5 separate regions of the Homo sapiens genome follow, and regions 2, 3, 4 and 5 are each linked to region 1. Evidence: fine-mapped expression QTL. A gene starts in region 1. Each other region holds a variant in brackets. All regions are shown on one strand. Distances are between the middles of the regions. Region 1 holds the start of FUOM (fucose mutarotase). Region 2 overlaps PAOX (polyamine oxidase). Region 3 overlaps ZNF511-PRAP1 (ZNF511-PRAP1 readthrough). Region 4 overlaps TUBGCP2 (tubulin gamma complex component 2). Region 5 holds the start of MTG1 (mitochondrial ribosome associated GTPase 1).

Evidence for each region. PIP is the estimated chance that this variant, and not a neighbour inherited with it, causes the effect.
Region 2: its variant is fine-mapped to the expression of FUOM in whole blood (TOPMed, PIP above 0.99).
Region 3: its variant is fine-mapped to the expression of FUOM in whole blood (TOPMed, PIP above 0.99).
Region 4: its variant is fine-mapped to the expression of FUOM in lung (TOPMed, PIP above 0.99). The same link has a PIP of 0.9 or more in blood mononuclear cells.
Region 5: its variant is fine-mapped to the expression of FUOM in whole blood (TOPMed, PIP above 0.99).

Annotation. Positions count from the first base shown.
Region 1 is chr10:133,355,582-133,359,698 of GRCh38, reverse strand. FUOM (fucose mutarotase) reads left to right here and starts at 1,680. Exons shown (of 6, transcript NM_001098483.3): 1 at 1,680-1,776; 2 at 2,444-2,512; 3 at 2,686-2,756; 4 at 2,961-3,059; 5 at 3,888-3,961. The coding sequence starts at 1,692. RefSeq lists silencers at 257-419, 1,452-1,531, 1,582-2,201 and enhancers at 2,352-2,451, 2,929-3,663.
Region 2 is chr10:133,382,408-133,386,524 of GRCh38, reverse strand. It overlaps PAOX (polyamine oxidase), which reads right to left. Exons shown (of 7, transcript NM_152911.4): 4 at 2,313-2,565. Among named protein-coding and RNA genes, the nearest start is that of PAOX, 5.2 kb to the right of the region's middle. The variant G/A (reference allele first, on the strand shown) is at 2,114.
Region 3 is chr10:133,313,263-133,317,379 of GRCh38, reverse strand. All of the region lies in intron 5 of ZNF511-PRAP1 (ZNF511-PRAP1 readthrough), which reads right to left. Among named protein-coding and RNA genes, the nearest start is that of ZNF511-PRAP1, 6.4 kb to the right of the region's middle. RefSeq lists enhancers at 2,536-3,037, 3,044-3,313. The variant G/A (reference allele first, on the strand shown) is at 2,493.
Region 4 is chr10:133,297,688-133,301,804 of GRCh38, reverse strand. TUBGCP2 (tubulin gamma complex component 2) reads left to right here. Exons shown (of 18, transcript NM_006659.4): 3 at 1,692-1,820; 4 at 2,202-2,378; 5 at 3,694-3,853. Among named protein-coding and RNA genes, the nearest start is that of TUBGCP2, 9.1 kb to the left of the region's middle. The variant C/T (reference allele first, on the strand shown) is at 2,060.
Region 5 is chr10:133,390,991-133,395,092 of GRCh38, reverse strand. PAOX (polyamine oxidase) reads right to left here. Exons shown (of 7, transcript NM_152911.4): 7 at 3,399-3,781. The coding sequence ends at 3,638. MTG1 (mitochondrial ribosome associated GTPase 1) reads right to left here and starts at 936. Exons shown (of 11, transcript NM_138384.4): 1 at 761-936. The coding sequence starts at 872. RefSeq lists an enhancer at 1-210 and silencers at 535-734, 795-1,144. The variant C/T (reference allele first, on the strand shown) is at 2,243.

The DNA of each region.
Region 1 (4,117 bases):
GCTTCCACTCACTCCTGAGCTAGTTGACCTCTGGCCCCATTATTGTTTGGGGTTTGATTAGGTGTTTTTTCTTTGTTGGTTTTGTTTTTTTTTTTGAGACGGAGTCACTTTCTGTCACCCAGGCTGGAGAGCAGTGGAGTGATCTCGGCTCACTGCACCCTCCGCTTCCCGGGTTCAAGCAATTCTCGTGCCTCAGCCTCCCAAGTAGCTGGGATTACAGGCACCAGTCACCATGCCTGGCTAATTTTTGTATATTTTGAAGAGACGGGGTTTCACCATGTTGGCCAGGCTGGTCTCCAACCCCTGACCTCAAGTGATCCGCCCGCCTCGGCCTCCCAAAGTGCTGGGATCACAGGTGTGAGCCACCGCGCCCGGCCTGATTTGGTTTTGAAGCTGAAAACTTTCTTGCCCATCTCTATAAAATCCTCTTGCCCTTGTATATTTGGGTAAACGGTGACTCTCCACTTACAAGTTGGAGTAGAAACTGCCCAGGTACAGCTCTGAAACCCGGTGGCCTCGGTGCAAAGCCACCCCTCATTGGCAGGCCCTGGGCAGCCCCGGTCTTCTCTCTGCCCGAGTGGCCGGCCCAGGGCCAGCTGTTCAGGTGCTGCTGGGTGCCAGCCTGGGTGGCCCCACCAGGCTTTTCCGACGCAGCCCAGGCCACTTCCCATGGGGACAGGCTCCTAGGGCCAAGCAGTTCAACATGGAGACGTCTGTTTCCTCCTGGTTTTCTGACGCGGCTTTGTCATTTTTCACATACAGATTGATTTTCAGAACTTTTTAGGAGCCGCCAGGCCTCAGAGCATTTGTGTCACCTCAGGGCTGAGGGCCAGGGCCGCAGTGCTAGCCCCACAGCTGGTGTCCAGCTGGGAATCATGTGGAAGAAGGTGGTTCCGCGGAGGGAGGGCCTGGCCAGCCTGAGCTCAGCCAAAGGTCAGGATGCCGCCATCCTGGGCAGGGGGTTGCAGGCCGCTGACACCGGGGGATGATGGAGGACCCTTAGGTGTCCTGGCACTTCGCAGCTGAGCCTGGAAGCTGGGCCTGGCTGCCCTCCTGGACTCCCCCCAAGGGGGTCCGAAGTCCTGGCTCCCGTGTCCCTTGCTCCCGGTCCCTCAGGAGCGTGGGCTGAAGGCCTGGGTCCAGCTACCCACCATGGTGACCCCAGGGACCCGGTGCGCTCCGGGCATTCTGCCAGGCCTAAGGGCAGCACGAAGTGGTCAGAGGGCAGAGACCCTCATGAGGGGAGGCCGCGGCGGTTGAACCCCTTCGGCCTGAGGGAGCTCGGGGTGGGAGGCTCGGGTAGGGACACTGGGGAGCCCCCGGCCACAGCGCAAGGGCACCCGAGTCTCGGACCTGGCGAGGAGCCCGTGGGCTGGCTGGGTGTTGCCCCCACGCCACGACTCAGCCCGCACGTCCCCAGTTCCTGGGGCTCCCCGCCCTTCCTTGAGCCGCAAGCGGACCCCAGCCCGCCGAACCCTAGGCCCGGCCCGTCCCCAAGCCCCAAGCCCGGGACCCTAAAGCCCCGCCCTCCAATAAAGCCCCGCCCTCCCCGTAAAGCCCCGCCTCTGCCCCTAAGCCCCGCCCTCCCCGTAAGGCCCCCGCCTCTGCCCCCAAGCCCCGCCCTCCCCGTAAGGCCCCGCCCCGGCCCCCAAGCCCCGCCCCTAGGCCCCGCCCGCCCCGTCTGCCGGGCCATGGTGGCGCTGAAGGGTGTCCCCGCACTGCTGTCCCCCGAGCTGCTCTACGCGCTGGCGCGGATGGGGCACGGGGACGAGATCGGTGAGCGCAGCGGGCCGGGGCCTCGGGGAGCACCCCGGGACAGGCAGGAGGGCGAGGCTTGCACGGGGACCCCCGGGCCGGGAAGGGCCGCGTCCTGGGGTGTGGGCGTTGCTCGGGCCTCCCTGGCTTCCGGGCAGGAAGCCCCCTCCCCCGCATTCTTTAGGGAACTGAGACCTCGTGGGGCTCTGGGCGGAGCCGGCCCGAGCTTCTCCCGGAGTCCCTCCCCAGACGGCCCGAGAGCCCTCGCGTCTGGGCTGCCCCCGAGGGTTCGGCGCTTTTTCTTCTCCTGGGGCCTGGGGTCCCGGGGCAGGGGTTGGGTGGCCGGGGGCCTGGTCCGGGCATCGCGGGCAGCCGCGCGTCCTCTGGCCCCTGGGGAGGCGGCCGGGTCCGGGTCGGCCCCCTGGCCTGGTCAGCACCCGACAGCCTCGCGGGCAGCTGTTGACGCCTCTCTGCCTCCCAGGCAGGGACCTTGCCCTCCCCACCTCCCCGCGTGGCTTCCAGCCCTGCGGATCTGACTGCGGCCGGTCGGCGGTGGGGGCGCCCAACTGGCTGACCTGAGACCTCTTGTGACCCACGATCTGCCGCCATGACTGGGTGGGAGGACGGGCGGCGCCGACCCCGAGGGCAGGGATAGGTGCCGACACGGGCTGTCCTCCCGGCTGTTTAGTTCTTGCGGACTTGAACTTCCCGGCCTCCTCCATCTGCCAGTGTGGGCCCATGGAGATCCGTGCAGACGGTGAGCGAGCCCCAGGTCCCCCAGGGCAGGGCGGGCGGGTGAGCGGTGCTCCTGGCTCTGAGGCTCCTCTGTGGCCTGCCGTGGCCCCAAGTCCATGCTTGCAGTGTGAAGGGTGCAGACAGGCAGGCGGGCGGGCGGGCTGGAGACTGAGTGCTGCCTCCTCTGCCCTCCAGGCCTGGGCATCCCGCAGCTCCTGGAGGCCGTGCTGAAGCTGCTGCCCCTGGACACCTATGTGGAGAGTCCGGTGAGGGCTGAGTCGCCCCTGCACCCTGCTGCTCCGTGCCTCAGTTTCCCCTTTTGCGGGCTTCATAGGGCCCACCTGCCTTGGAGTGGGGGGAAGCCATGTGTCCCCAAAGGGGCCCTGACCCTCACCAGGGGAGTCCCGAATGGTCACCTGACCAGGAAGGCTGGCAGTGCCCAGGGCCCCAGAGCTGACCCCTCCCTCTAGGCTGCAGTCATGGAGCTGGTGCCCAGCGACAAGGAGAGGGGCCTGCAGACCCCAGTGTGGACGGAGTACGAGTCCATCCTACGCAGGGCCGGCTGTGTGGTAAGCCTGCAGCCCCAGTTGTGGGGAAAAGGCCAGGGACCCTCTGTCTCCTGGAGGCTCAGGAGGAGCCAAAGACAGAGGGTCCCAAGCTCTGTCCTCAAGTGGTCTCCCACCCATCACCCTGAGAACCCCGGACCACTGGCACTCCTTCACCAGCCAGGTGGAAGAGGTGCACCTGGGCAGTGTGGCCCCTCTTCCTCTGCCCCCGAGCTTTCCACCTGCCCTGCCCCGCCCAGGATCCTGACCTGCCAGGTGGGTTGTCACCCACCACAGCCTGTGAGTGGAGCCTGGGGGACTCAGGATGCCTGGCCTCCACCTCCTCAATCTCCCCTGGAGGGGTGCCCCCTGGTCCCAGGTCTCTCGCCCCATCCTGGCTATGGTTGGTCAGAGGCTTAGCTGGGTGCTGTGTCTCACTCAGCCCTCTCCACACCTTGCCCTGCAAGGGGACAGGCCCATTTTCCTGGGCAACCCACTGGCAGGTCTTGAGCAGGGCCTCCATAAGGGGGGCCAGGGGCTCTTGTCCTGGGCAGGGGACTCCCCCCAGGACAGCTGGCAGGGGCTCGACAGTCTACTGAGCTGTCTGGGTGGCCCCAGGTCAGGCAGAGACCCAAGCATGGCAGGTTCCTCGTCCACCATGTCCTGGGACCCCCTGTCCTAGGCCTTGGGAGCCAGAGGCTGAGTGACCGTGGGGCCCTTGCCGGGGGAGAGCCCAAGAAATGGAACCCCACTTCCTGGTGCCCTCCCTGCTTTGGGCCCTGGGGAGTCCAGGGCTGGCCCATGAGGGTTTCTTGGCAGGGTTCCCTCCAACCCTGCCATTTTGTCTTCCAGAGAGCCCTGGCAAAGATAGAGAGGTTTGAGTTTTATGAACGGGCTAAGAAGGCTTTTGCTGTTGTGGCAACGGGGTGAGTTCCAGCTGGCTCAGACCTGCCCCATCCCCACTGGGGCCTCAGGAGCTGCCCCCATCCCCACCGGGGGGCCTCAGGAGCTGCCCCTACCCTCTTCTCAGCTTCTGCCTGGCTGAGGCTAGACGTCCCACAGAGTGGAGAGACCAGGGAGGA
Region 2 (4,117 bases), 27 kb before region 1:
CCAGCCTGGGCGACAAAAGCAAAACTCCATCTCATAAATAAACAAATATCACTCCTTCTTCCAACCACATATCCATGTAGATCCACATTTTCTTCCTATGTTTCAACCAAAATAAAACATCACCACAGAATGAATGCAGAGGAGGCCTGAGAACCCAGATGTCTTCTATTAAGTGTAACACTGAAGAGTTTTGCAGAAAAGGCCGGGCGTGGTGGCTCACACCTGTAATCCCAGCACTTTGGGAGGCCAAGGTGGGCGGATCACTTGAGGCCAGGAGTTCGAGACCAGCCTGGCCAACATGGCAAAACCCTGTCTCTACTAAAACTACAAAAATTAGCTGGGCATGGTGGCACACACCTATAATCCCAGCTACTCGGGAGGCTGAGGCAGGAAAATCGCTTGAACCCAAGAGGCAGAGGTTGCAGTGAGCTGAGATCACGCCACTGCATTCCATGCATTCCAGCCTGGGTGACAGAGAGACCTTGTCTCAAAAAAAAAAAAAAAAAGTTTTGCAGAAAAGACAAAACTGCTGCCACCCTTCATTAAATTTTAAGAAAATATTCATTTAAAAATGTTATTTATGCTAACATAGAATAGGTTTGTTACTATCATCTCAAATAATAATTTAATTTATCATGTGGTGACTGGGTGCGGTGGCTCATGCCTGTAATCCCAGCACTTTGGGAGGCCGAGGCGGGCGGATCACGAGGTCAGGAGATCGAGACCATCCTGGCTAACACGGTGAAACCCTGTCTCTACTAAAAATACAAACAATTAGCCGGGCGTGGTGGTGGGTGCCTGTAGTTCCAGCTACTCAGGAGGCTGAGGCAGGAGAATGGCGTGAACCCAGGAGGTGGGGCTTGCAGTGAGCCAAGATTGCACCACTGCACTCCAGTCTGGGGGACAGAGCGAGACTCCATCTCAAAAACAAAAAAATATTTTATTTATCATGGGGTAAATTTACAGATGTGACTCACATAAACAAAAGCTCTTTGAGATCCCCAACCCTTTGCAGGTATATAAAAGGATGGGACAGCTACCACCCCGTGCCACAGACAGGGTCCCACCAAAGCACTCAGGGTCCCACTGATGTCCTAAGCAAGAGAGCACAGGAGGTGGGGCTGGGCCTGGAGCAGGTGGCTCTACACACAGTCACCCACCCGGCTGCCCACCAGCAACCCAGGCCTATCTCAACACCTGGAATGCCAGTTTTCTTTCTTTTTTTTTTTAGACAGAGTTTTGCTCTTGTTGCCAAGGCTGGAGTGCAGTGGCACAATCTCAGCTCACTGCAACCTCTGCCTCCCAGGTTCAAGCGATTGTCCTGCCTCAGCCTCCTGAGTAGCTGTGATTACAGGTGCGTGCCACCACACCGGCTAATTTTTTGTATTTTTAGTAGAGACGGGGTTTCATCATGTTGGCCAGGCTGGTCTCGAACTCCTGACCTCAGGTGATCCACCCGCCTCAGCCTCCCAAAGTGCAGGGATTACAGACATGAGCCACCGCGCCTGGCCGAAATGCCAGTTTTCTCTTCAGTGTGAAGGAGACACACAGGCTTCCCCCGTCACAGGTGCAGGGCTGGTCTGCAGCCTGCAGCCTCCTGCTCCCAGTGGATGGCAACTATGAACCATCTGGCAGGCATGCCCTACATCCCACCCCATCCCGGGTCTTTCAGAACAAGAACTTGGTGCCCCCTCCTGCGGCATCTCTCAGTGGAAACGTGGAATTATTTCTGCCATCTGACTATATCAGGCTGTCTTTGTGTTTTAATCTTGCTGGAAAAGTCAGTCCCTCCATCCCCACATCACTCATGGGATTAACTCCTGAATCGCCACGTGGTCTAGATATGCTGTTTCTAAGAGGGCCAGCCCATACAAGGGAGCCCTTCCTCTGTGGGTCTCCCATTCCATTACTTCTCGGAATGTTTCCTTCAATTATTTCATCCCATTTAAGTATTGTCTCCCCACGTATGGGCAGATGGTGTTTCAAAGTTCTTCTGTATCTACAAGCCCCAGCTCCCTGCAACATTCCAGTAAACACGTTCCCACTGACTGAAGACTGAGCCTGCCTGCAAGTCTACAAACACATTCTGGGCCCTGAGGGACGCTGACAACCC[G/A]CATACAGCAGGGCGCCATCTGTCCCCGCAGGGGTCAGGCCCAGGTGCAGCCAGCACCTGGTGGGGGGGCGCTCATGGGAACCCTACCCATTAAACCCCCTAGAAATACCCTGCAGTGAACAGACACACTGCTGCGTCCTCCATCAGATGAAGGCCTATGAGCCAGCCACTCGCAGAACTTCTCAGGGAGCAAACGTACGCAAAGGCAGGCAGGACCACAAAGCCAATGAGCTTCCGGAACCAGGCGTCCTGTAGCTCAGGGGCAGCATCCTCCAGGGGCGACGTGTCCTCCCACACCAGCTGGATCAGCTGGCAGTCTGGCTCCCAGAAGGGCTCCTCAAACTCCAGGAAGATTTTGTTGTTGGTCCCAAAGCCTATCTTCCTGATTGCTTCTGCCTTCTCAGCCGGCAGGGGAGGGTCAAAGAAGGTGTCCAAATGTTCCCTAAGAAAACCTGGAATTCAGAATTGGACTCTTCTTACATCACATAAAGCCCTCCACGGAAGTCCTGTCTGTCCAGACCTTGGATCCAGCAATTTCCCCTGCTGGTGTTTATCCTACAGACACATTCACACAAGCAGTTTTACTTTTTTGTCCTTGTTTTTGAGATAGGGTCTTGCTCTGTTGCCCAGGCTAGAGTGCATGCAGCACCATGATCAGGGCTCACTGCAGCCTTGACCTCCCTGGCTCAGTCCTCCCACTTTGGCCTCCCAAACTGCTGGGATTACAGGCGTGAGCCTCTGTTCCCCACCTTTCACACAAGTGTTTTTTGTTTTTTTGTTTTTTGGGTTTTCTTTTTTTTTTTTTTTTTGAGATGGATTCTCACTCTGTCGCCCAAGCTGGAATGCAACGATGCCATCTTGGCTCACTGCAACCTCCACCTCCCAGGTTCTAGTGATTCTCCTGCCTCAGCTTCCCAAATAGCTGGGATTACAGGCACCCACGACCAGGCCCAGCTAATTTTTCTATTTTTAGTAGAGATGGGGTCTTGCCATGTTGGTTAGGCTGGTCTTGAACTCGTGACCTCAGGTGATCTACCTGCCTCAGCCTCCCGAAGTGCTGGGATTACAGGCGTGAGCCACCGTGCCTGGCCAACACAAGTGTTTTTAAGTGCACATGTAAAACTGCATGAAATAGAAAAAGTGAAGGCCACCTAAATTTCCATCTATGCTTATGAAATAATGACAAGAAAACACTGCGTGGCAAATTAACCCGCTCCTTTTTTTTTGAGACGGAGTTTCGCTCTGGTCTCCCAGGCTGGAGTGCAATGGCACAATCTCGGCTCACTGCAACCTCTGCCTCCTGGGTTCAAGCAATTCTCCAGCCTCAGCCTCCTGAGTAGCTGGGACTACAGGCACCCGACGGCTAATTTTTGTGAACTGGCTCCTTATAAACAAAATGCTCACAGTTGTAGCAATGTATCTACTGACAATGTCCCCGTGATCAGCACTTAGCAGGGCCTGCAAGCACTTACTCCAAACGTGAATGAACAAAGCCACTGGAGGGAAACAAAAAAGACCGCTGTAGATCTATGTGTGCTGATTTGGAAACACTGACAAGTTCTATTAAGAAAAAAACAAAAAACAAAAACAGGCAAACTGAGCAGCAGATTTTTGGTTTTTTTTTTTTTCTGAGACAGAGTCTCACTCTGTCACCCAGGCTGGAGTGCAATGACACCATCTCGGCTCACTGTGACCTCTGCCTCCCCCGTTCAAGCGATTCTCCTGCCTCAGCCTCCCAAGTAGCTGGAATTACAGGTGCCTGCCACCATGCCCAGCTAATTTTTGGATTTTTAGTAGAGACAGGGTTTCATCATGTTGACCAGGCTGGTCTCGAACTCCTGACCTCAGGTGATCCGCCTGCCTCAGCTTCCCAAAGGGCTGGGATTACAAGCGTGAGCCACCGTGCCCAGCCAGCAGCAGATGTTCATGTGTGGACGACGACTGCATCTCTGGGAAACAGCAATGGGGTCTCAGTGCTCATCCCTGCCCCGGGGAGGGCAAAGC
Region 3 (4,117 bases), 42 kb after region 1:
TGTGTCCTGGGGGAGGGGGGGTGTGGTCTTTCCATCTCTGTGTCCTGGGGGGGTGAGGCCTTTCCATCTGTGTGTCTGGGGGGGGGTGTGGTCTTCCCATCTCTGTGTCCTGGGGGCGGTGCGGCCTTTCCATCTCTGTGTCCTGGGGGAGGGAGGGTGTGGTCTTTCCATCTCTGTGTCCTGGGGGGGTGAGGCCTTTCCATCTGTGTGTCTGGGGTGGGGTGCGGTCTTTCCATCTCTGTGTCCTTGGGAAGGGGGGGTGCAGTCTTTCCATCTCTGTGTGTGGCGGGGTGCGGTTTTTCCATCTCTGCGTCTGGGGGGGGTGTGGTCTTTCCATCTCTGCGTCTGGAGGGGGTGTGGTCTTTCCATCTCTGTGTCCTGGGGGAGGGGGGGTGCGGTCTTTCCATCTCTGTGTTTGGGGATACAGTCTTTCCATCTCTGTGTTGGTGGGGGGTGCAGTCTTTCCATCTCTTTGTCTGGGGTGGGTGTGGTCTTTCCATCTCTGTGTCCTGTTGTGGGGGGTGTGGTCTTTCCATCTCTCTGTCTGGGGGGGTGCGGTCTTTCCATCTCTGTGTCTTGCGGGGGTGGTCTTTCCATCTCTGTGTCTGGGGGGTGGGTGTGGTCTTTCCATCTCTGTGTCCTGTGGCAGGGTGCAGTCTTTCCATCTGTTTGTGTGTGTGTGTGTGTGTGGGGGGGGGGGGGGGGGGGGTGGTCTTTCCATCGCTGTGTCCTGGGGGGGTATGGTCTTTCCATCTCTGTGTCTTGGGGAGTGTGGTCTTTCCATCTCTGTGTCCAGGTCGGGGGGAGGGGTGGTGCGGCCTTCCTATCTCTGTGTCCTAAGCGGGGGTGTGGCTGTTCCATTCTGTGTTTGGTAGGGGGGTGCGACCTTTCCATCTCTGTGTCCAGGGAGGGGGGTGTGGCCTTTCCATCTCTATGTCTTCGGGGTGTGTGGCCTTTCCATCTCTATGTCTTGGGGGTGTGTGGCCTTTCCGTCTCTGTGTCTGGGGAGTGCAGTTGTTCCATCCTGTGCCTTGTCTGAGTCCTCTTGACAGCTGCAACCTGGAAGCCACTTCCAGGTGTGTCGGGAGTTGGTTCCTTCCAGTGGGTTCGTGGTCTTGCTGACTTCAAGAATGGAACTGCGGATCTTCGTGGTGAGTGTTACAGCTCTTAAAGATGGCATGGACCCAAAGAGTGAGCAGCAGCAAAAGTTATTGTGAACAGCAGAGGGTCACCACTGCTGGCTGGGTGGCGGAGGGGGTTGTGTGTGTGTGTTGGAAGGGGCAGCTTTTATTCCCTTATTTGTCCCTGCCCATGTCCCGCTGACTGGTCCATTTTACAGGGTGTTGATTGGTCCATTTTACAGTGTGCTGATTGGCCCATTTTAAACACTTCTAGCTAGCTACAGAGCATTGATTGGTGCATTTTTACAGAGCCCTGATTGGTGCATTTTACAAACCTCTAGCTAGCTACACAAAAGTTCTCCAAGTCCCCACTCGACCCAGGAAGTCCAGCTGGCTTCAGCTCTCACAGGTCTTGCAGCTGAAACACGAGCATCTCTGCCGGGCGTGGTGGCTCATGACTGTAATCCCAGCACTTTGGGAGGCTGAGGCAGGCAGATCACCTGAGGTCAGGAGTTCGAGACCAGCCTGGCCAACATAGTGAAACCCTGTATCTACTAAAAATACAAAAAGTAGCTGGGTACGATGTTGTGTGTCTGTAATTCCAGCTACTCAGGAGGCTGAGGCAGGAGAATCGCTTGAACTCAGGGGGCAGAGGTTGCAGTGAGCCAGGATGATGCCACTGCACTCCAGCCTGGGCAAGAAGAGCGAGCCTGCCTCAAAAAAAAAAAAAAAAAAAAAAAAAAAAAAAAAGAAGAAAGAAAGAAAAGAAACATGAGTATCTTCTTAGAAACGGATGCAGCCCACGTACAGTTATGATGCTGGCTTTGAAACAAAACAGTAACATTCTTCATACCGAAGTTTTACACTCCCCACTTGTCAGAAGAAAAACTGAGACAGAATAAACAAATCGCTTCCAGGCAGAGATGAAGCTAGGATTGGAAGCCAGGACCAACAGTCCCCGAAGGGTATAGAACAGTCCTGCTGTGAACAAAAGAGTTTTAGCAGAATCTGCTGTTGTGGAAAGGGCTAATACATCCTCGTGGAGCGCTGCCGCCAGGGCTGTGCTGCTGGCCTTGTGCAGGGAGCTCACGCAAGAGCCAGAGGATTCAACGGGCTGGGGCAGGATCTTCTCAGGGAGATGGAGAACCAGCAGTAAATCTGCGTGTTTGCATTTTTCTTGTGTTGTGCTTTCTCAAGCAGCCGACAGGCCCCGGGCGGCCCCACCACAGCCACCCTCGGCCAGTGCTCATCTCCCACCCCACACATGTGCGTGTGAAACCTCTCTTCACTGATGCACCCAGGCCTGGGCTTCAGGCTTTAGTGTCTTCCCTTGAGTGCTTGGGAACCTGCCTTCAGTTTTCAGAGCACGAA[G/A]CACTGTGCCATGTCAGCTCTGAACCTGAGGCCCTTGAGATTCCTTGACTCCAGGTTGCTGGAGAGCTCTCAGCATCATCCTGTGGAGCTGGGCAGCAGCTGCAGATGACCACCCACTGCCTCCAGCCAGACCCAGAGCCCCAAAAGGAGTGGGCTGTGAGGCAATGCCAGGGGCAGGGGGCCAGGAGCACACCAGTCACATGAAGGGACCAGCCCCACAGGGTCTGTGTGTTTTTCTCCCCGTGTGCAGAGACAAGAGATCGTAGAAATAAAGACGCAAGACAAAGAGATAAAAGACAGCTGGGCCCGGGGGACCACTACCACCAAGACGCGGAGACCGGTAGCGGCCCAGAATGCCAGGCTGCACTTTTATTGGATAGAAGACAAGGGGGCAGGGTAAAGAGTGTGAGTCATCTCCAATGATAGGTAAGGTCACGTGTGTCACGTGTCCACTGGACAGGGGGCCCTTCGTCATTTGGCAGCCAAGGCAGAGAGGCAGAGAGAGAGAGGCAGCTTACGCCATTACTTCTGCATATCAGAGACTTTTAGTACTTTCACTAATTTTGCTACTGCTATCTAAAGTGCAGAGCCAGGTGTACAGAATGGAACATGAAAGCGGACTAGGAGTGTGACCACTGAAGCACAGCATCACAGGGAGACGGTTAGGCCTCCAGATGGCTGCGGGCGGGCCTGACTGATATCAGGCCTTCCACAAGAGGTGGAGGAGTAGAGTCTTCTCTAAACTCCCCCAGGGAAAGGGAGACTCCCTCTCCCAGTCTGCTAAGTAGCAGGTGCTTTTCCTTTGCACTGACGTTACCACTAGACTACGGTCCGCTTGGCGACGGGCATCTTCCCAGACGCTGGCGTCACCGCTAGACCAAGGAGCCCTCTGGTGGCCCTGTCCGGGCATGACAGAAGGCTCACACTCTTGTCTTCTGGTCACTTCTCACTATGTCCCCTCAGCTCCTATTTCCGTATGGCCTGGTTTTTCCTAGGTTATGATTGTAGAGTGAGGATTATTATAATATTGGAATAAAGAATAATTACTACAAACTAATGATTAGTGATACATATATAATCATATCTATGACATATATCTAGTATAACTCCTGTTATTTTATATATTTGTTATACTGGAACAGCTCGTGCCCTCGTTCTCTTGCCTTGGCACCTGGGTGGCTTGCCGCCTATATCACATGCTGTGGGAACAGGGCCGCTGGAGGAAGACGTGGTCGGGAGTCTCTGAGCGCCCTAATTTTATCAAAACAGAGTGATTTCTCCAGGACACACTGCCCCCAGTGTATCTCTGCAATCCAATGCCAGCCCCAATCTCCTGGCCTGCATTTCCTGATGCAGGCTCTGTGGTCCCCGCTGGCACTAGTGATGGATCCTGCACCCTCTGGGGCAGCACCCCCCACTCCCCCAGCATCCCACACACCCCCAAGCACCCCATGCCCCCAGAGCCAGTGCCCCTCCCTGTGGGCATCAGATCCTACCCCCACCAGGTCTACTCCCTAAGTGGTGTGGCAAGGACAACTGGGTGTGGCTCCCAAAGCCAGGAGGTCCGGGACGAGGTGGAGTGCTGTATCCTACCCCATCACCCACCTCTGAGGGGTGCCAGGACT
Region 4 (4,117 bases), 58 kb after region 1:
AGGTGGAGCTTGCAGTGAGCCGAGATATCGTGCCACTGCATTCCAGCCTGGGCGTCAGAGTGAGACTCTGTCTCAAAAAAAAAAAAAAAAAAAAAAAAAAAAAAGGGAGGGACTGGTATTAACCATGTTGAAATGCCTTTAAGGTATTATTTCTTTATTCAGATAATATGTAATTCAGAAGTATAGATTTTCAGTAAAAATGATTTTGAATTTGAAGTCTATTTTAAAAAATACATTATGAAGCTTCAGTTATTTAAACAGGTTAACAATGGCACAAGGATAATTAGGCAAATTAGCCGAGTGGAATAGAGACTTGGGGACACCCATGTTTAGTTCATTCTGAAGGAAGCATTGTAAATCACTGAGTAAAACATAACCCCTGCTGGGCACGGTCGCTCACACCTGTAATCCCAGCCCTTTGGGAGGCCGAGGCGGGTGGATCACCTAAGGTTGGGAGTTCGAGACCAGCCTGGCCAACATGGAGAAACCCCATCGCTACTAAAAATACAAAAATTAGGGCGTGGTGGTGCGTGCCAGTAATGCAGCTACTCAGGAGGCTGAGGCAGGAGAATTACTTGAACCAGGGAGGTGGAGGTTGCGGTGAGCCTAGATCACGCCATTGCACTCCAGCCTGGGCAACAAGAGCGAAACTCCGTCCAAAAGAAAAAGCATAACCCCTAGGGTTGCACATAATAACAAATTCCAGAGGGAACATAGTGAGGTGTATACAATGAACGCATAAACTACTGCGGGGAATACAGTGAGATGCAGACAATGAACGCATAAACTACTGGGGGGAAAAGGTAAGTCGCTACTCTCCAGTACAAACCTGAAGAAGCATAAAAGGGAACACAGTGAGATGCATACAATGAACGCATAAACTACTGGGGGGAAATGCAAGTTGCTACTCTCCAGTACAAACCTGAAGCAGCATAAAAGGGAATACAGTGAAATGTATACAATGAACGCATAAACTACTGGGGGGAAGTGTAAGTCGCTACTCTCCAGTACAAACCTGAAGAAGCATAAAAGGGCGGGCGCAGGGGCTCACACCTGTAACGCCAGCACTTTGGGACGAGGCAGGTGGATGGCTTGAGCCTGGGAGTTTGAGAGCAGTCTGGGCAACATGGTGAAATCCTGTCTCTAGAAAAAATTAAAATAATACGAAGAAGCACAAAAGGAAAGGAACCATAATGGGAAATACGGATAAGGTTTGTTTTGTTTTGTTTTGAGACAGAGTCTTACTCTGTCACCCAGGCTGGAATGCATGTGGCACGATCTTGTCTTACTGCAGTCTCAACCTCCCAGGCTGATGTGATCCTCCCATCTCAGCTTCCCAAGTAGTGACCACAGGCAAGTGCCACCACGCCTCGCTAATTTTTGAATCTTTTTGTAGAAATGGGGTTTTGTTATTTTGGCCAGGCTGGTCTTGAACTCCTGGACTCAAGCAGTCTACCAGCCTCGGCCTCCCAAAGTGCTGGGATTACAGTCATGAGCCACTGCCTAGCTCAAAACATGGATAAGTTTAACACAATATGGAGATGAGTTTTGTTAGTTTATTTCAGAGGGATAATTATTTAACCTACCCAATTTAATTCCATTGGCTTATTGTGTTCAATTTTCGTAAAGGTTTTTTTTTACAGTGCTTTATTAATTACCGTCATTAAATCACTCATGTTTGTGCTTTTGAGGTTAAAATTGCAGAGTTTTCTCGTACTCCAGAAGACTTTCTAAAGAAATATGATGAACTGAAATCTAAAAATACAAGGAACCTTGACCCGCTGGTGTACCTGTTGTCAAAGCTCACGGAAGACAAAGAGGTAGGTGCCCATGCCACGTGCCACACTGCGCCCGTACGGCCCATGTTGGGAGTGGGGTCGCGTCTCCTGCTCACTCCACGCCATCTTCCTGTCAGCTCTTCCTCGCTCACACCAGTAACGCTTCTAGGCCATGTAGGAAATTTTTGGTGAATCAGAATGAAAGATAACCCATGTTGGGTGTAAACATGAGAAGCAGCCTCTGGGGCACTTTGAGCTTCCCGCATGTGTCACGCTCAGTT[C/T]CTGCCTGTCGCACGCGTCGCTTTGCTATTAATGGGTGCCTGTCAGGGTTGGGGAGCCGTCCTGGTGGTGTCGTCCCTACTCTCCCCCTATGGCCAAAGAGGTGCTGGCCCAGTGTGAACACACAGTTTTACATGTTTTCAGACTCTGCAGTACTTACAACAGAATGCAAAAGAAAGAGCTGAGCTTGCAGCCGCTGCTGTGGGCAGCAGTACCACCAGCATCAACGTCCCTGCCGCGGCCTCCAAGATCTCCATGCAGGAGCTTGAGGAACTGAGGAAGCAGCTTGGCAGCGTGGCCACAGGCTCCACGCTGCAGCAGGTACTGCGTCCATGGCTGTCCACAGGCTCCATGCTGCAGCAGGTCCTGTGTCCGTGGCGTCCACAGGCACCCACACTCAGTGCTGTGCCGGGCCCCTGCTGGAAGGACATGTCTCTCTGTCATTTATTGAAAATGAATCCCTTAGAGAGGCCAAGGCTTAATGCTTGATCATGACCTAGCTCTATATGTTTAGTTTTTTTTTTAACCAAGAATTCTGGACCACAAGAATCAATAGCAGCAAGGTTCTGACCCACGTGGGAGTTGTGCTGCCAGGTGGCCACGTGACTCTGAGCCTACCCAATCCTGACTCCCCATTTCCCTCCTCCAATTTTTGACAATTTTGAGGGAATGCTTTCAGATCATTATATTTTCAAGATTCTCGAAAATACAGTAATTTTTATTATTCCTTCTGTATTTGCTACTTGCTCTTGGTTTTGATTTTATGCCCTACCCTGGTCTTTTGACGTAAGTCATCTCCCAGTCTCTCTCATTAGAGCTGCCACGTTCCTGCCTTTGTGACCTTTAAACTCCCTTTGGAGCTGTGTCCCTGAGGCGTCCTAGCCTCCTGGGTGCGTGTTGAGTGCAGCGGCTCCCAAGGACCCAGCCGGTTCTTGCTGGGCACGTTCTGTGCTGGACATGGTGCTAGGCCTCTGTCCACGTCTCCCTCAGCCGTGGCAGAAGACTGGGTCTTACTGCCACGTGCAGAGACAGTTTGCATCTGCCCGTGTCCCTGACCAGCCCTGAGTGGGAGTCAGTGCTTCCGAAAGCTGGGCCAGCCCAGGCCGACCCCATCAGCCTCTGGCGGCCACTGGCGCAGGAGGGCAGGCTCTCTGACCACATGTCAGGAGCCATCCTGTCACGCTGGGGCCCTTCTCCGGCAGGGTAAGGATGCATGTCTGTTGCTGAAGCCTGTCTTCACCCATCAAGTGGTGTTCAGACCTAGTCACTGCCAGAAAGAAGCAATTCAGCTTGTTCACAGGGCGCCCTCCTTTGAAACAGCGGCTCTGTGCCTAGGTGCACCCTCTCCCGTGGTTCCCACTGCTGGTGCTCATGTTTTCCCAGGGGGGCCCTTGCAGGACCTGCACTCCTGAGAAGAGGGGCTAGGGCTCCCCATCTGCCCTGTTGTCCCCAGCCCCTCACGTTGTGGCAGGCAGGGATGTCGAGGCGCATTTCATTTCTATGTGGTTGACCCTTTGTGGGTGTTGAATTGAGTAATCATCTTTGCCGTAGATGCTAGCTTCTATGCATGTCTTTAGTTGAGTGTTTGCGCTAAAGTGTATCTTTCTGGTTTTGTTTTTTAAAATGTCCTTGCTAGTCTCTGGAACTTAAAAGAAAGATGCTTCGAGACAAGCAGAACAAAAAAAATTCAGGCCAGCACCTCCCCATCTTCCCAGCATGGGTGTATGAGAGACCTGCCCTGATCGGGGATTTCCTGATTGGTGCTGGCATCAGCACAGACACCGCTTTGCCGATAGGTACGTGATGCGTTGATTTCCGGGCTCTGCCGATAGGTACGTGATGCGTTGATTTCCGGGCTCTGCCGATAGGTATGTCATGTGTTTATTTCTGGCCTCTGGGCAGGACACTTTGCAGGCCCAGCCCTCCCCCGGGCCTGCCTTTCCTCAGGTTGTGAGGCTCAATGCTGACTGGCTGCCGCCTCCATATTCCCATCCCAGGATGGCAGCAGAGAACGGCTCACCCGGGTCCTTGAGGGTTCTTCTCCTGTCCCTTCTGCCAGA
Region 5 (4,102 bases), 35 kb before region 1:
GCTATAACACAGAGTAACACTGGCTCATTAGGCCCCTGCTACCTCGCGGGGATGATGACGATAGTCCCCTAACCAGGAATACCACACACAACCAAGATAACAAAGCTTCCAGCTTTCTTCCCCTCCAGTGTTATCCGAAGACCGAGGACACAGCCTCAGTCACCCACACGGGCCCTTCTTCCCCCTCGGCCCCCAGTACACGCGGAGCCGACGCAGGAGTGGCCATCACAACACCTAGACGGGCTGGGCTGGCCCCAGAGGTCTTCTTGGGGCCGAATTGTGACAAACAGTAAGAATTACCAAAGACGTTAAGCAGGAGAACGACTCAAGATACCAGTTAAAACTGAACAGGTGCCTTCATACCCACTGTTTCATTTAGTCCCCAAAAGACTCAGAAAAGTCTATCTTGTCAAGAACATGTGGAAACGGAGGCTTCGGGGGATTAAAAGGGCAGAAGGAACTTGCTGGGAACAGAGGACAGGGGCGGCGGGCCAGAGGTAGGAGGTCAAGCAGGCCCTGGGTCCGAGGCTGCGCCGCGGGGGCACTCGCGGGAACGGGCCTCTCCCGCAGCTGCGCAGGGGAAGGGGTCCCGGCGGCTCCGGGAGCGGGTGAGAGCGGGGAAGGAGGGGAGACAAGGGAGGAGGGGCGGGGCCAGCCCAGAACGACCGGGAGAAGCAGGCGACGGCCGAAACCGGGGTGGGAGGGAAGCAGAGGCGCCGCGGCCGTAGGCATGACCTTGCCCCTCCCCGCCGTGCCTCACCCTTGGCCATGTGGCCCGGGAACCAGCGCGCCACGTCGCGACCGCACAGGGGGAAGTTCTCCCGCCAGGCGGCCTGGGCGGCGCTGCACAGCGCGCGCGGGGTCAATCTCATGGCGGCACCGTCCCCGGAAACGCTCCCGCAGCTGACCTCCTCTGCGCCGCTGCGACCCGCCTCTGAGGTTCCGGCGCTGCGGGCCTCCGGCACTGCGGGCTTCCGGCGCTCCAAGGGGCCGCACCACGGCCTGCGCGTGCGCACGACGTTGCCTCCGCCTCCGGCGAAGCCCGGAGTGGGCGGGGCCCGGGCCCAGAGGGAGGGACGAATGGTGGGTCGAGCGTCGGGGCGGGACTGCGAGGAGACCCGGGGGGACGGGGAGGTTCCTGGGTTTTGTGGGTTTAAGTAATTCGCAGATTTATTAACATTCATTAAATATTAAAAATCATCGTTCTCCCTTAAGCATATCCTGAGTATAAGTGTAAAAATTTAGCAATCTCTTTTTACAATTTGGTTAAAATCTCTCAAATACTTTAAATTTACCTTATAAATGTAATCTCTTCATTTTCTTTTTAAGTACTTCAGGGTTTTTGTTTGTTTTGTTTTGTTTGAGACGGAGTCTCCGCTCTGTTGCCCAAGAGTGCAGTGGCACGATCTCGCTCATTGCAACCTCCAACTCCTGAGTTCAAGGGATTCTCCCACCTCAGCCTCCGGAGTAGCTGGGATTACTGGCGCCTGCCACCACGCCGGCTGATTTTGTATTTTTAGTAGAGATGGAGTTCCACCATGTTGGCCAGGCTGGTCTCCAACTCCTGACCTCAAGTGATCTACCTGTCTCGGCCTCCCAAAATGCTGGGATTACAGGCATGAGCCACCGCGCGCAGCCTCAAGTACTTCAGGGTTTAATATAACAAACTGTTTCCAAATACTGACTGCAGTTCTGCTAAATTAAACCGATTAATTAATGAGGCTGAAATATTCTCCACTGTCCAAGACTAGACATAAATATAGTCGGATTTCAACTCTAAATCAGCAGTCAGCAACTGCTCAATTGCACACTGCGTTACAAGAGTATTACTCTACCGGAATTTTTATTTTTGAGACGGAGTCTCGCTCTGTCGCCAGGCTGGAGTGCAGTGGCGTGATCTTGGCTCACTGCAACCTCCGCCTCCCGGGGTTCAAGCAGTTCTCCTGCCTTAGCCTCCTGAGTAGCTGGGACTACAGGTGCGCACCACCACGCCCGGCTACTTTTTTTGTATTTTTAGTAGAGATGGGGTTTCACCATGTTGGCCAGGCTAGTCTCGAACTCTGACCTCAGGTGATCTGCCCACCTCAGCCTCCCAAAGTGCTGGAATTACAGGCATGAGCCATGGCACCCAGCCTCTACTGGAATTTTTTAAACAAGCTACTGAAAATACCAAACATGCTCAAATTCTAAGTACAAAAATATTGCCATGGTTCTGATGTTCTTAAACCACCTAATACCCTAA[C/T]GCCTAGCTGTAAATATTTTTGGGCATGAGAGAGTGGCCCCTCCGTGGAAGACAGAAGCCTCCCAGGTGGTTTCTGGGCTGAGTGGGGGCAGTCAGGGCCTCCTGCTAGGTCAATGCCCCCAAGCCCCCTCCTCACCAAGCCGGTCCCTCACACCCAGAGGGGGCAGCCTGGGTCTTGCTGCCTTTCTCCCTGGGATACAGAATTGATGAAACCCTAAATGTCAATGATAAAGATTTTTGTACTTTAAGGAAGCTGCATTCCCTCATGGTCCTAGGAGCACAAAACCACAATAAAACCCTGTGGAATCTGAATTTCTCTCCCAGGCGTCTGATGGGCAGGTGTCCCCAGAGAGAACAGTCTGGTGACACAGCAAATGCAGGTGGGGCTGCTGGCTACAGAGGGAGGCTGGGGCTCGGGAGGGTGGGGTCAGGGAACATCCTAGGAGGGGCAATTTGAACAGAGACCAGAGGGTGAGAAGAGAGGAGCCCTGCAGATCCAGGCTGGGGTGGAGGGGCCGGAGAGGGGCCTGGACTCCCAGCACATTCACCCCAATACCACGTGGTACCCCAGCACTGCCCACACCCCAACATCCCCCGGCACCCAGCACACTCACCCCAACACCCCCCAGCACCCAACACTACCCACACCCCAACACCCCCCAGCACCCCAGCACTGCCCCCACCCCAACACCCCCCAGCACCCAGCACACTCACCCCAGCACTGCCCACGCCCCACACACTCCCTGGCTCCCATGGGCTGGGCACCGTTTCTCTTTTCAGGCCTTATTATGTATTCACTTCCTCCAGAAAACCCCCGGCCTCAGGGCAGGGCAGGGCACCCCTCATCTCCCCAGTGCCCTGCGAACCTGTGAAGTGGGCGCCTGATGCAGCATCAGTTGATGAGCAAGAGGAGGGTTGTCAGCTATGCTGTCATCCCAGGCAGCAGCCACGAGAATGCAGGGGCACGAGAAGCAACTACAGGACCCAGAGTTCAGGGAACCCAGAGTGTGGGGCCATGTGTGGTTGTGGGGATTGGAGACACAGGGCCCTGTGCAACCTGGGCCCGGAGCAAGACAAAGACAACAGCAGCAGATGCTGGAGCCCCAAGGCAGGAAGGACAGGACAGCCTCAAGGCAGGAAAGATGGCTCTGGGAGCTGTGGCTGTAACTTGCTTTATGTGTCCAGCATCTCCGTGAGCATCTGGTGTCTCAGCTCAAGTCAACCCTGGCCAGACTCCAATAACAGACACAAGAACTGAGAAGGTGGCCCTGGTTACCAAAAACCAGAGGACCCTCATTAACATCCCCAAATTTCAAGCCAGACTGAAATCTGTCAGAAGAAATGAGGGTCCCAGCCTACCCCCGACACGGGTGGAACAGAGTAGGCTGGGCCCAGCTAGAGCCTGGGCCTGGGCTGCTGCACCTGCGGGGCCCACAGACTGAGGAGGCGGTCGGCCTCCCTCCATCCCGACAGCAGAGCCCCGTGCGTCGTGGAGTAAAACGTGCGATGTGTGGCTTCCCCCGCAAACAGGATCTGGAGCTGCAAAGAAGAGCCAGGGTTAGAATGGGGATGCAATTCAGACAGCAGGGTCTGGGCAAGGAAACACAGAAAATGGCTCACAAGCATCCACCAAGAAGCAGGAAAACAGCTCACACACCTCCACCAACGGACGAGAAAAGGGCTCACGTGTACCCACCAATAGCCAGGAAAACAGCTCACACACATCCACCAACGGGCAGGAAAACAGCTCACATGTATCCATCAACAGCCAGGAAAACGGCTCACACGCATCCACCAACGGGCGGGAAAACGGCTCACACGCATCCACCAACGGGCGGGAAAACGGCTCACACGCATCCA